2 linked regions of the Homo sapiens genome follow. The protein of the gene in region 1 interacts with the protein of each later gene in a biochemical or structural test. Each region holds a gene or a part of one and is shown in the gene's direction. Other genes may lie near its edges.

Region 1 (7,408 bases):
GGGCTCAAGCAATCCTCCCACCTCAGCCTCCCAAGTAGCTGGGACTAGAGGTGTGTGCCACCAAACCCAGCTAAATTTTGTATTTTTGTAGAGACAGGGTTTCACCATGTTGCCCAGACTCGTCTCAGACTCCTGGGTTCAAGGGGTCCACTCACCCTCAGTCACCCAAAGTGCCGGGATTATAGGTGTGAGCCATCGCGCCTGGCCTGCTTCAGTATTGTTGGGTTTTAAATATTTCTGTTTCCATCAGTGATTGCCAGGGGTTGAAGGGGGGTGGAGGGGGGTGAGTACCAAGGGCCAGGGGGTCACTTGTGGGCAGTGGTGATTCCGTATCTTGATTCACCTGAGGTCAGGAGTTCGAGACCAGCCTGGCCAACATGGCGAAACCCCATCTCTACTAAAAATACAAAAATTAGCCAGGCGTGGTGGCACGCACCTGAAGTCCCAGCTACTCAGGAGGCTAAGGCAGGAGAATGGCTTGAACCTGGGAGGTGGAGGTTGTAGTGAGCCAAGATCGCCCTACTGCACTCCAGCCTGGGCAACAGAGTGAGACTCTGTCTCAAAAAAAAAAAAAACAAAAAAAGAAAGAAAAAGAAAAACCGGATGTAAAACAGTTTATTCTTTAAGTGCAGGGGTGTGTAACGCAATCCTTGCTTGGCATGACCTTAGATCCTGTTTATAATTTGGTATCTTATTGCCACAAACAGTCCATTCTGTCTGTCTTATGATCACTGTTTCAACATTAAGGCTGGTCAGCTGTTGTGTCTAAACTTCTAAGGAAGAGGGTATAAGGAGGCATGTCTGACCTCTCATCTCATTATGGCTGGGAACTCAGTGTTTAAGGTTTCTTGAAGGTCCCCTTGGCCAAGAGGGGGCCCATTCAGTCAGTTGGCGGGGCTTAGGATTTTTAGTTTACATTCTGCTCACTGGAGTAGCACTTTTAATTTCCTTCAGGAAATTTTCCTTTGAATTCACAACTTGACTAAATGTTTGGTGCAAGAAGTCTTGCTTTCAGCCTATCCTGACTTTTGACACACCTTCCTCACTGAGCTTAATCATTTCTAGCTTTTGATTTAAAGTGAGAGATGTGCGACTCTTCCTATCCCTCGAACATTTAGAGGCGTGGACTGAAATTCAATATTGTTGTGTCTTACAGGCTAGGGAGACCTGAGAAGAGTGAGAGAGAGGGGGGAACAGCCAGTCAGTGGAGCACTTGGAACATACACAATACCGATTAAGTTGGCTGGTTTACCTGAATGCTGTTTGTGGCACCCCAAAACAATTACAATAGTAACATTAAGGATCACTGATCACAGATCACCTTAATAGGTGTAATAATAATGAAAAACTTTGGGACCAGGCACGGTGGCTCACGCCTGTAATCCCAGCACTTTGGGAGGCCAGGGCAAGCATATCTCCTGAGGTCAGGAGTTCGAAACCAGCCTGGCCAACACAGTGGAACCCCATCTCTACTAAAAACGCTAAAATTAGCCAGGCATGGTGGCGCGTGCCTGTAATTCCAGCTATTTGGGTGGCTGAGGCACGAAAATCGCTTGAACCCCAGGAGGTGGAGGTTGCAGTGAGCCAAGATTGCGCCACTGCACTCCAGCCTGCATGACAGAGTGAGGCATTATTGCAAAAAAGAAAAGAAAAAAAAAAGTTTGAAATATTACAAGAATTACCAGGATGTGGTACAGAGACACGAAGTGAGCACATGCTGTTGAAAATGGTGCCAATAGACTTGCTGTAGTCAGGTAGCCACAAACCTTGAACTTGTAAAAATGCAGTATCTTCGAAGCACAATAAAGTGAAGTGCAATAAAACAAGATATGCCGGGCGGGGCACGGTGGCTCACACCTGTAATCCCAGAACTTTGGGAGGCCAAGGTGGGTGGATCACAAGGTCAGGAGTTCAAGAGCAGCCTGGCCAATATGGTGAAACCCTGTCTCTACTAAAAATACAAAAATTAACTGGGCGTGGTGGCGGGAGCCTGTAGTCCCAGCTACTCGGGAGGCTGAGACAGGAGAATCACTTGAACCCGGGAGGCGGAGCTTGCAGTGAGCTGAGATCACGCCACTGCACTCCAGCCTGGGCCACAGAGCGAGCCTCCATCTCAAAAACAAACAACAACAACAAAAAAACAAGATATACCTATATACCTCAATTTTAAGGAAACAAAAATTCTCAATTTTAATTTCTAACAGAGTACAGTTAGATATAAACAAAATCCCTCAATCCTTTTTAAGCGTACAAAGAGATCCGGAGAACAAAAACTTTGAGAACTACTGATCTAATGCATTGATTTCTTTTGTTTTGTTTCTGTAGTTGGGGCTACAGGTATGCGACACCACCCCCAGCATGAATGCAATTACTCAGTCTGGAGTCGGAGAAAGCGATTGAAAGGGAGGGAAAAATCTTGCTGGCTCTAATGCTTTATAAACTGTGCTGTCCAATACGGTAGCTGCTGGCCACTTGGGGCTATTGAGCACATGAAAAGTGGGTACTCCAAACTGAGAGGTACTTAGTACCAAAAAACAAAAAAATAATGGGCCGGGCGCGGTGGCTCACACCTGTAATCCCAACACTTTGGGAGCCCGAGGCGGATGGATCACGAGGTCAGGAGTTCAAGCAGCCTGACCAACATGGTGAAACCCCGTCTCTACTAAAAATACAAAAAAATTAGCCGGGCGTGGTGGTGTGCACCTGTAATCCCAGCTACTCAGGAGGCTGAGGCAGGATAATCGCTTGAACCTGAGAGGCGAGATCGTGCCATTGCACTGCAGCCTGGGCGGCAGAGCAAGACTCCATCTCAAAAAAAAAAGAATGTAAATTATCTCATCAATAATTTTCACATAGAAATGACATATTTTGTTTTTCTTTTCTTTGTTTTTCGGTAGCCATGGGTTCTTGCTATGTTGCCCAGGTGGCCTTGGACTCTGGGCCTGAAGCCATCCTCTCACCTGGCCTCCCAAAGTGCTGGGATTATAGGCATAAGCCACTGCACCTGCCCCAATATTTTGAACATATTGGGTCAAGGAAAAAATATGGTTAAAATTAATTTTACCTCTTGCTTTTTTTTTTTTTTTTTTTTTTTTTGATGCTGAATCTCTCTCTGTTGCCCAGGCTGGAGTGCAGTGGTGTGATCTCAGCTCACTGCAGCCTCCGCCTCCCAGGTTCTAGCGATTCTCCCGCCTCAGCCTCCCGAGTAGCTGGGATTACAGGCACGCGCCACCACACCTGGCTGATTTTTGTATTTTTTAGTAGAGACGGGGTTTCACCATATTGGCCATGCTGGTCTCGAACTCCTGACCTCAAGCAATCCGTGCCCCCCACCCCCACCCCCCGGCCTCCCAAAGTGCTGGGATTACAAGTATGAGCCATCGCACCTGACCTCTTTTTTTTTTTTTTTGAGATGGAGTCTGGTTCTGTCACCCAGGCTGGAATGCAGTGGCATGATCTTGGCTCAGTGCAACCTCCACCACCACGGTTCAAGCAATTCTCCTGCCTCAGCCTCCTGAGTAGCTGGAATTACAGGAGCCTGCCACCACGCCCGGCTAATTTTTGTATTTTTAGTAGAGATGGGGTTTCACCATGTTGGCCAAGCTGGTCTCGAACTCTTGACCTCAGGTGATCCACCAGCCTCGTTCTCCCAAAGTGCTGGGATTACAGGCGTGAGCCACGGCGTCTGGCCTACCTCCTGCTTTTCACTTTAATGTGGCTACTGGAAAATGTAAAATTACCTATGTGGCTCCTGTATATTTCTGTTGGAGAGTGCCATTCTGGAGACAGACAGACCGAACTGCCAATCTCTGTTTCACCACTTACAAGCTGCGTCAAAAAACTTACTATTTCTTCAAATTTCCTGGGTTCCCTGGGATGTAAAATGTGGGTAATGTTAGAGTTGGTGTGAATATTAAATGTAAATAATGAATGTAACATACTTAGCTCTATACCTGGCACCCAAGTAAACAATAAGTTTGTTGGCTATTAAAGACGTTGATTTCTCTACTGATATCGTCAGAGATGGGCCTCATGCTCATTAAAGTTCCTTCCTCTGCGACCTATTTCCACTCTGGCCACAATAATAACTAATTATAGCAGAGGCCTGACCCGACTTTCGGCTGTTGGCCTCCCTTCCCCACATCGAAAAATTCAAATCATGACCCAGGGTCCATCCTAGAAGTGTGCCATCTGTATTTATGAATGGAGCCTAAGCAAATCTGAAAACCAAGCAGCCCCAGGCAACTGAGCCCAGCGTAGCAACCGACGCCGGGGCCTGTTGCTAAGGGAAAAGAAAGAAAGGACGTGGTCCGTCAGCTATTGCTCTCCGGGGGCAGCTACTTCCGGTCCCCCTGGGAGCTGTCCTGCGGTCTACGTTCCCCCGAGGTGCTGGGACTGCGGCCGCAGGTTCCGCTGTCTCGGGAACCGTCGTATCCCTCGGTCCGGCGGCGGCGGCGGCGGTAGCGGAGGAGACGGTTTCAGGCCTCCGGTGCGGCTGCAATGCTGAGCTCCCGGGCCGAGGCGGCGATGACCGCGGCCGACAGGGCCATCCAGCGCTTCCTGCGGACCGGGGCGGCCGTCAGGTGAGATTTTGGGGGGCGGGGCTGCCGAAGAGGCCGGGACCAGGGTCCCCAGCTTGGGCCCGTGACGGCTTTTTCATGCCCTAGTTGGGGTCTCCAGGGCCCGCGCGGGCATTCTGGAAGGTTCTGCGTCCTTTAGGGTTGGAGGCCTGGGCCCGTAGGTGGGAGGACTGACGGGCTCCAGTCCTTCGGCAACACCAATTCTGTCTGCACTCCCCAGGTCTGTCAGTCCCTCCCCCTCCTGTCATTGTTCCCAGGACACCCGGGGCACTCCAGTCTTGTCAAGGCCCCTAATTCTGTCAGTGCCCTCAGTCCTTTCAGTGCCTCCTAGGCCTGCCAAGACCCCTCAATCCTTCTAGTATACCCCCAGTCCTTCTGGGTCCCCCAATCATATCAGTTTCTGGACTGCCAGGGTTCCCCAACCTTGGCACGGTTCTTCTAGTCCTATAAGTGCCCCGGGCCTGCGAGCCCCGCGTTTTGTTAGTACCGCCCCCTATTCCTGTTAGCCCGCCCTCTAGTCTAATATGGATCGCCACTTCTGTCTGGGTCCCTGATGTTGTTAGTGTGAGTAAAGGCCCTTGTTTTGCAAGGGTCTCTAAATTGGTCAGGGCCCCTTTAACCTGTTAAGGTTGCTTGGTCCTGTTAAAGCCCTCCGTTCTTGTTAGGACTCCTCGATTGCCTGGGTCCCCAATCCTGTCAGGGCCCCCATTTCCCTCTTATTCACCCTCCCAAGGGCTCCAGGCTTCAGAACTGAGTACCCCCTCCCCCACTGCTGACCCCAAATGACTGAGACCTGTTGCTCAGGTCGGCTTCCTCTGGAACTGGAGCAGGTTTAAAGAGCTTATTATCCCAGGGCTGAAAGTCCTCGATACTTATCCTGTCCAGTGCCCCCATTCCGTAGATAGGAAGTGTGGCCCCATAGCTGACCTCATAGCAGAGTTGGGAGGAGAAGCCAGATCTTTTCATCCGCAGGCCCCACCACTCTCCTCGTGATGTCATTTTGCAGAGGAATGGAGTTTCCAAAGTCGCCACTTGTCCCTGGGTATTTTTTCCTTATGCTGCCAAAGTCATGGACAAGTCCTCTCTCCCATCCCCTTGACACTCTTCCCTTCAGTTTCCATCTTGAACTTCGTGGTTTTAAGCACAGACCTGGGGAGACAGACAGGCATGATTCAGAGCCATGTTCCTTCACTCACTGTGACCAAGTTGGGCTCTTAGTTTCTTCTGCTATAAAAATGAAAGTGATAGTAGAACCTGCATCTGTGGGGTTGTTTTAAAAATGAGGTAAGATTGTCACAGGGCCTGGCAGAGAGTATGTACCCTTAAATATTAGTGTTTGATTAGGGGATTTTAAAGCACTGGTAAAGCACCTTAGCACTTCCATGACAGTCCTTTATAATCTTTCCAGGCACTTTTGTGAACTCACGTATCGTGTAAAAGCACAGTGATGTATTAAGAAACTTCAAGAATACCTTTCACCAGCTGGGCATGGTGGCTCACACCTGTAATCCCAGCTCTTTGGAAGGCTGAGGCAGGTGGATTTCTTGAGCTCAGGAGTTCGAGACCAGCCTGGGCAATGTAGTGAGACCCTGTCTCTACAAAAAAATTTAAAAATTACCTGGGCATGTGGTGTGCAGCTGTGGTCCCAGCTACTTGGGAGGCTGAGGCAGGAGGATCACCTGAGCCCGGAAGGTGAAGATTGTGTTGAGCTGAGATGGCACCACTGCACTCCAGCCTGGGCACTAGAGCAACTAGAGCAAGACACTGTCTCAAAAAAAAATAAAAATAAAAATAAGAAAAAAAGAAAGAATAGCTTTCATGAATGATCCTGAGATTGTAATGCTTAATTTGTAGCAGCTAACATTTATTAAGTTCTTACTATGTACTGTATGCATTCACACTTATTTAATCCTCACAACAGCCCTATGAGGTAGGTCTTATGGATTGTCCCCATTGTACAGATGAGGAAACTGAGGCTTAGAAGGTGAAGTGATGCCAAATGAAATAGCAAAGCCAGGATTGAACCAGAATAAGGTAATCCCACTTTCTTAACCAAGTTTGGTGCATATTCTGTTGACTCTGTCTTGGAAAACAAATATTTATCTGAAATTCAGCTATCAGCTATGATACTAAGAAATGCTGATTATTATAAAACAGGGTCAATATTACCACCAGTGACTCTTCACCAAGTTAATGTTTACTGAACTGAAATCAAAACAATATTCACATGATCCAAATACTGGGATAATAATGTATTACACACACACACACACAAACACGTATGTATGCATGTGTAACATATATGCAGATACACATTACATAGCTATATACACATAGATGGTTTGTCTTATTTTGTAGAAATATATAACTTTGTATAAAAACAATGTTTTAAATTGTTGGGGAAATTTCTTAATATGTAGCAAAAGCATAACCAGCGTTCAAGTCAAGCCTGAAGTTAGGAAATCTTTAATTTTATAAATATTCAGCTCTTTTATACCATTGTATGTGTGCCCCTTCCCTGTCTAATATTCTAAAAGAGAAATTCATTTCTGTATATTTTCTCCAGTATTCAGTCATTCAATAAATATTTTATATATATATACACACACACATATATATACATATATATATATATATATATATTTTTTTTTTTTTTTTTTTTGAGGCAGAGTCTCGCTCAGTCACCCAGGCTGGAGTGCAGTGGCGCAATCTGGGCTCACTGTAACCTCCGCCTCTTGGACTCAAGCCATTCTGCCTCGGCCTCCAGAGTAGCTGGGATTACAGGCACCTGCCACCACACCCAGCTAATTTTTGTATTTTTAGTAGAG
Region 2 (4,859 bases), on another chromosome or scaffold:
TCTGTCCCATGGGCACTCATGAAAAAACAGAATGCTCCCAACTTTATTCATCTTCCAAGCCTGTAGCTCTTGGTATACTCACTGTTGCAAGTCAGAAGCTTGATTTCATCATTGATGTTTTTCTCACGTTTCACATCTCACTCATCACCAAGTCATGTTGGTGTTAATTTCTGATTAACCCTTGAATTTACCGTCTTCTCATCCTCTGTACAAAAGCCTCAAGTGAGGGTCAAATTCAACATTATCCTGATCTAGACAGCCCCCATTCTCAATCCACCCTTTTCCAAGTTGATTGCCCAAGGACTTCTAACAATAAACTCTCTTTTGCACCACAGACTTCTTTGAAAATATACATGCTGTTGACCCTCTCTGTAGAAAACCGCACACATAAAACTTACCAACAGATTTCATTGGTTCTTGGGTTCTCCCGAAGCCTATCCATGGTTTATAGATTAAGAATTGATGAGGTAGCTGGGCACAGTGGCTCACACCTACGATCACAGCACTTCGGGAGGCTGAAGCAAGCAGATCACTTGAGGTCAGGAGTTTGAGACCAGCCTGGCCAACATGGTGAAACCCTGTCTCTACTAAAAATACAAAAAGTAGCCAGCCGTGATGACAGGCACCTGTAATCCCAGCTACTCGGGAGGCTGAGGCATGAGAATTGCTTGAACCCGGGAGGCGGAGGTTGCAGTGAGCCTAGATCATGCCACTGCACTCCAACCTGGGCAGCAGAGCAAGACTCTGTCTCAAAAGGGGAAAAAAAAAATTGCTGATGTGACCCATGAAGGGAACTCATTTTCCTCGTAATTTTGGACTGCCACACATTGGTACCTTTAGTTCTCTGAAGGCCCACGTTTTTATCATTAAGACCTATTTGTTAGCTAGTAGAGCTTTATGTTCGCTGTCCATGAAACCTTCTGTAACCACAGTGACTACAAGTAGTTCTTTCTCTATTGAATTATTAGGTCCAGAATAGAAGATGTCATTGTACACTTTATTTCCCTCACACTGTGTTATGCTCTGATGTGCTATGCTTAGCTATCTGTCAGAGATTAGTAAATTATAAAACTCATGTGTACTACTTAAGTTTATATCTTATGCTAGTTTATAAGAACAATTAAAAGGACTTAGAAGATTAACTTTGGTTTCATGGTCTCTGAAGTCACTGACTGCTATTTCAGCTTGTTTACCCTTACCTAGCATTAAGACTCCATCTACTTCTGTGCAGTATATGAAAATTTTTAAACTTTCATTTAGACTGGTGGATAGGACTGACCATTACAAATTGTCGTTATCAATTTTTTTTCCTTTTTTTTTTTAAGAGCCAAGTTCTCACTGTCTCCCAGGCTGGAGTGCAGTGGCATGATTATGGCTCCCTGCAGCCTTGAACTCCTGGACTCAAGCTGCAGCCTCTCGAGTAGCTGGGTGCATGTGCTACCACACCCAATTATGAATTTCATCATTAGTTTCTTAGTAGAGTCCACATGTCCTCAGTAGTAAGTTCATCAGTGCTAAATATTTGAAGGTATTTCTACTGTTTTGTAAAAGTAACTTAAGCCTACCTGGTCTGCTATCTTTTGAGTATTTATACTTTCTACGGGCTTGTAGGTAAACATAAAAAGAGAAAAAATATCCCAATAATACAGTTTTTAACCTTTTATGATAAAGACATGCTTAGAATTGCTGTTAAGCTTTCTGAGATTTAACCACTGAAACTAAGTAAAAGACAAAGCACTTAGGTAAAGCTTCATTCAGTATCCATTCACCCAATACTGGTTTGATTCTAGGGCCTAGGAAAATAGGACTGAGCAAAGCCCTTGTCCAGATGGAACTTATGTTTTAGAGGGGAAAACAAACCATAAAAAGGTAAACAGTATAAAATCAGGAAAGGATAAATGTATATGAAGAATCAAAATGAGGACGGTGATGGGGATAAGAGGGGAAGGTTTTTGAGGAGAGCAGAGCAATGATGTAAAAGCAAGACACACAGATAGGGAAATAGCTTTCCATACTAAGGGAATGGGAAATAAAGCTGAGTTTTGCCTTGAGGACCTCCAAACATGAGAATTGCTAGAGCTCTGTGAACAAGGATGAGAGTGGAAGACAATATAAGCAAAGGCTACATCACTTAGGGCCTATAGGCCACACTGAAGTGTGACAGGAAAAACTCAGTTTGAGCAGAGGCTTGACATACTTAACATATTTAAAGGTTCTCTGGCTGTTGTGTGGACAAGAGGAGAAGCAGAGATTAGTTAAGAGGCTATTGTAGCCCAGGTGAGGGATGATGTATGATCTTCAACATGTCTAATTTTTTTGTGCCTCAATTTCATGAAATGAAAATGCGACTAATACCACCTCATAAAGTTGTGAGAATTACATGAGTCAATATATGTAAGGCCCATCATGGCACACAAATGTGTTATGTAATATCCATTTGGCAGACTGAAGAACAACAGTATGAATGGAATTCATTCACCATGAGAATTACCTGGAATTCTCTGGGCATGGTAGCTCATGCCTGTAATCCCAGCACTTTGGGTGGCCGAGGCAGGTGGATCACCTGAGATCAGGAGTTCGAGACCAGCCTGACCAACATGGAGAAACCCAGTCTCTAATAAAAATACAAAACTAGCCGGGCATGGTGGCACATTCCTGTAATCCCAGCGACTCAGGAGGCTGAGGCAGGAGAATCGCTTGAACCTGGGAAGCGGAGGTTGTGGTGAGCCGAGGTTGCGCCATTGTACTCCAGCCTGGGCAACAAGAGCAAAACTCTGTTTCAAAAAAAAAGAAAGAAAGAAAATTACCTGGAATTCAATATTGCCATCGGCTGATTTAATTTCTAATATGAAGAAAGGGGCAGTGTGATGTGCCACGGAGCATCCACAACCTGCCATTTCAGCCCAGCCAACCTTAGAAAGCCATTGAAAAGAGTTGTTTTTAATGGTGTTTTTACATCCAGCTTCCCACACCTCAAATACTTGGGGTGGAATTGTTAATCTCACATTGCAGTACAATGAAAATAGTGGAATGGAAATCAAGTTATAAAATGGAGCTAAATATTTCTTCTGCTTGCCTCTGAGTTGATAAGATACCATAAGATACTGTACATGAGGCTGGGCGCGGTGGCTCACGTCTTATTTCTTCTGCTTGCCTCTGAGTTGACAAGATACCATAAGATACTGTACATGAGGCTGGGTGCAGTGGCTCACGCCTGTAATCCCAGCACTTTGGGAGGGTGAGGTGGGCAGATCACCTGAGGTCGGGAGTTCAAGACCAGCCTGACTGACATGGAGAAACCCCCTCTTTACTAAAAATACAAAATTAGCCAGGCATGGTGGTGCATGCCTATAATTCCAACTACTCGGGAGGCTGAGGCAGGAGAATCGCTTGAACCTGGAAGGCAGAGGTTGTGGTGAGCTGAGATCGAACCATTGCACTCCAGCCTGGGCAACAAGAGCGAAAATCTGTCGCCAAAAAAAAAAAAAAAAAGATACTGTACATGGAAGCTTCTCAGGCTAAATCCATTAATATAAAAATACATTGTGGATACTGATGAGATGGCTAATTCTGTCAACTTGACTAGGCTACGGGATGCCTTGATAGCTGGTCAAACAACATTTCTAGGTACATCTGTGATGGTGTTTCTGGAAGAGACTAGCACTTGAATCAGTAGACTTGAGTAAAGAAGACTGCCTTCACCCATGTGGGTGAGCGTCATCTAATCCATTGAGGGCCTGAATAGAACAAAAAAGGGGAAGAAGGGTGAACTGCTGGGACATCCATTTCGTGCCCCCAGATGTTGGTGCTCCTGGTCCTCAGGCCTTCAGACTAGGACTTAACGTTATTGCCTCCCCTGATTCTCAAGCCCTCGGGTTTGGAACTACACTGGCTTTCCTGGGCCTTCAGCCTGCAGAAGGCAGACTGTGGGACTTCACCTCCATTTTGCAGAGCCAATTTCTCATAATCTGTACATATCCTATTGGTTCTGTATTTTTTAGAGAACAAATACAGCCTATTATGTATATATAAGACCCTGGGAATGCAAAGATGAACAAAATTAACCTTCTGCTCTCAATGAATCTTGGAAGTCTCCAGAGGCAGACAATTTCAAAACACCGTATATAGTCTTAATATGGAATTAACAATAGGGTATTGTGAATACACAAAAGTAGGAAGGACTCTGATCTCTAGAAAACAATTGTATACTGTGAATGAAAAAGACTAATTCTCCACAGTCTATACTCAATCTCTCTTACCTTTCCATAATTTTCTTCAGCAAACTTATTACCACCAAACATAGTACATGTTTATTTATTACCCATCTCTCCCAACTAGAAAATAAATGTATTACACTGGGCTGTCTTCTTTGTTGTCAGCTGTATCACAGCAACTGGTGTAATACACGGCACTGGCATATACAAGACAAACACTTGTCAGATGAATAAAAATGCAAATTCCAGGAGGTAGGGGGACACATAACTACATGGAAGTTAGAGGTGAATAGCATGCAAGGGGGCTAGGAAATAAGTATAGAGACCTATGTGAGTTGGGGAGGTGGCAAGCAGAGGCCAGATCACAAAAGCTCTTACTGCTCTTCTTTGGAGTTCGGATTTTATCGTGAGGGTAGGAAAGTGGCATCAGATACATGCTTTAAGAGATCAGTCTGGTTTTTTTCCCACCATGTGAAAACAGAAGATGCCATCTATGAATCAGAGTGGCCCCTCACCAGACAATCTTTCCATCCTTCACAATGTGAGATGTAAATTTGTTATTTAAAAAAAAAAAAACAAAACACCACTATGGTTTGGAAGATTCCTGTTTCAAAAATGGCAGGTTAAGCCCCATATTTATAGGCT

Evidence for each region.
Region 2: of the proteins of USP30 (region 1) and PAICS, one has a biochemical effect on the other in vitro, tested with the Homo sapiens proteins (one study listed by BioGRID).

Annotation. Positions count from the first base shown.
Region 1 is NC_000012.12:109,048,179-109,055,586, forward strand, and holds the start of USP30 (ubiquitin carboxyl-terminal hydrolase 30), read left to right. Parts: upstream 1-4,397; 5' UTR 4,398-4,500; coding exon 4,501-4,583; intron 4,584-4,603; exon of another isoform or gene 4,604-5,859; coding exon of another isoform or gene 5,860-5,864; intron 5,865-6,327; exon of another isoform or gene 6,328-6,614; intron 6,615-7,408. UniProt on the Homo sapiens protein: Deubiquitinating enzyme tethered to the mitochondrial outer membrane that acts as a key inhibitor of mitophagy by counteracting the action of parkin (PRKN): hydrolyzes ubiquitin attached by parkin on target proteins, such as RHOT1/MIRO1 and TOMM20, thereby blocking parkin's ability to drive mitophagy.
Region 2 is NC_000004.12:56,460,220-56,465,078, forward strand, and holds the end of PAICS (bifunctional phosphoribosylaminoimidazole carboxylase/phosphoribosylaminoimidazole succinocarboxamide synthetase), read left to right. Parts: 3' UTR 1-4,359; downstream 4,360-4,859. UniProt on the Homo sapiens protein: Bifunctional phosphoribosylaminoimidazole carboxylase and phosphoribosylaminoimidazole succinocarboxamide synthetase catalyzing two reactions of the de novo purine biosynthetic pathway.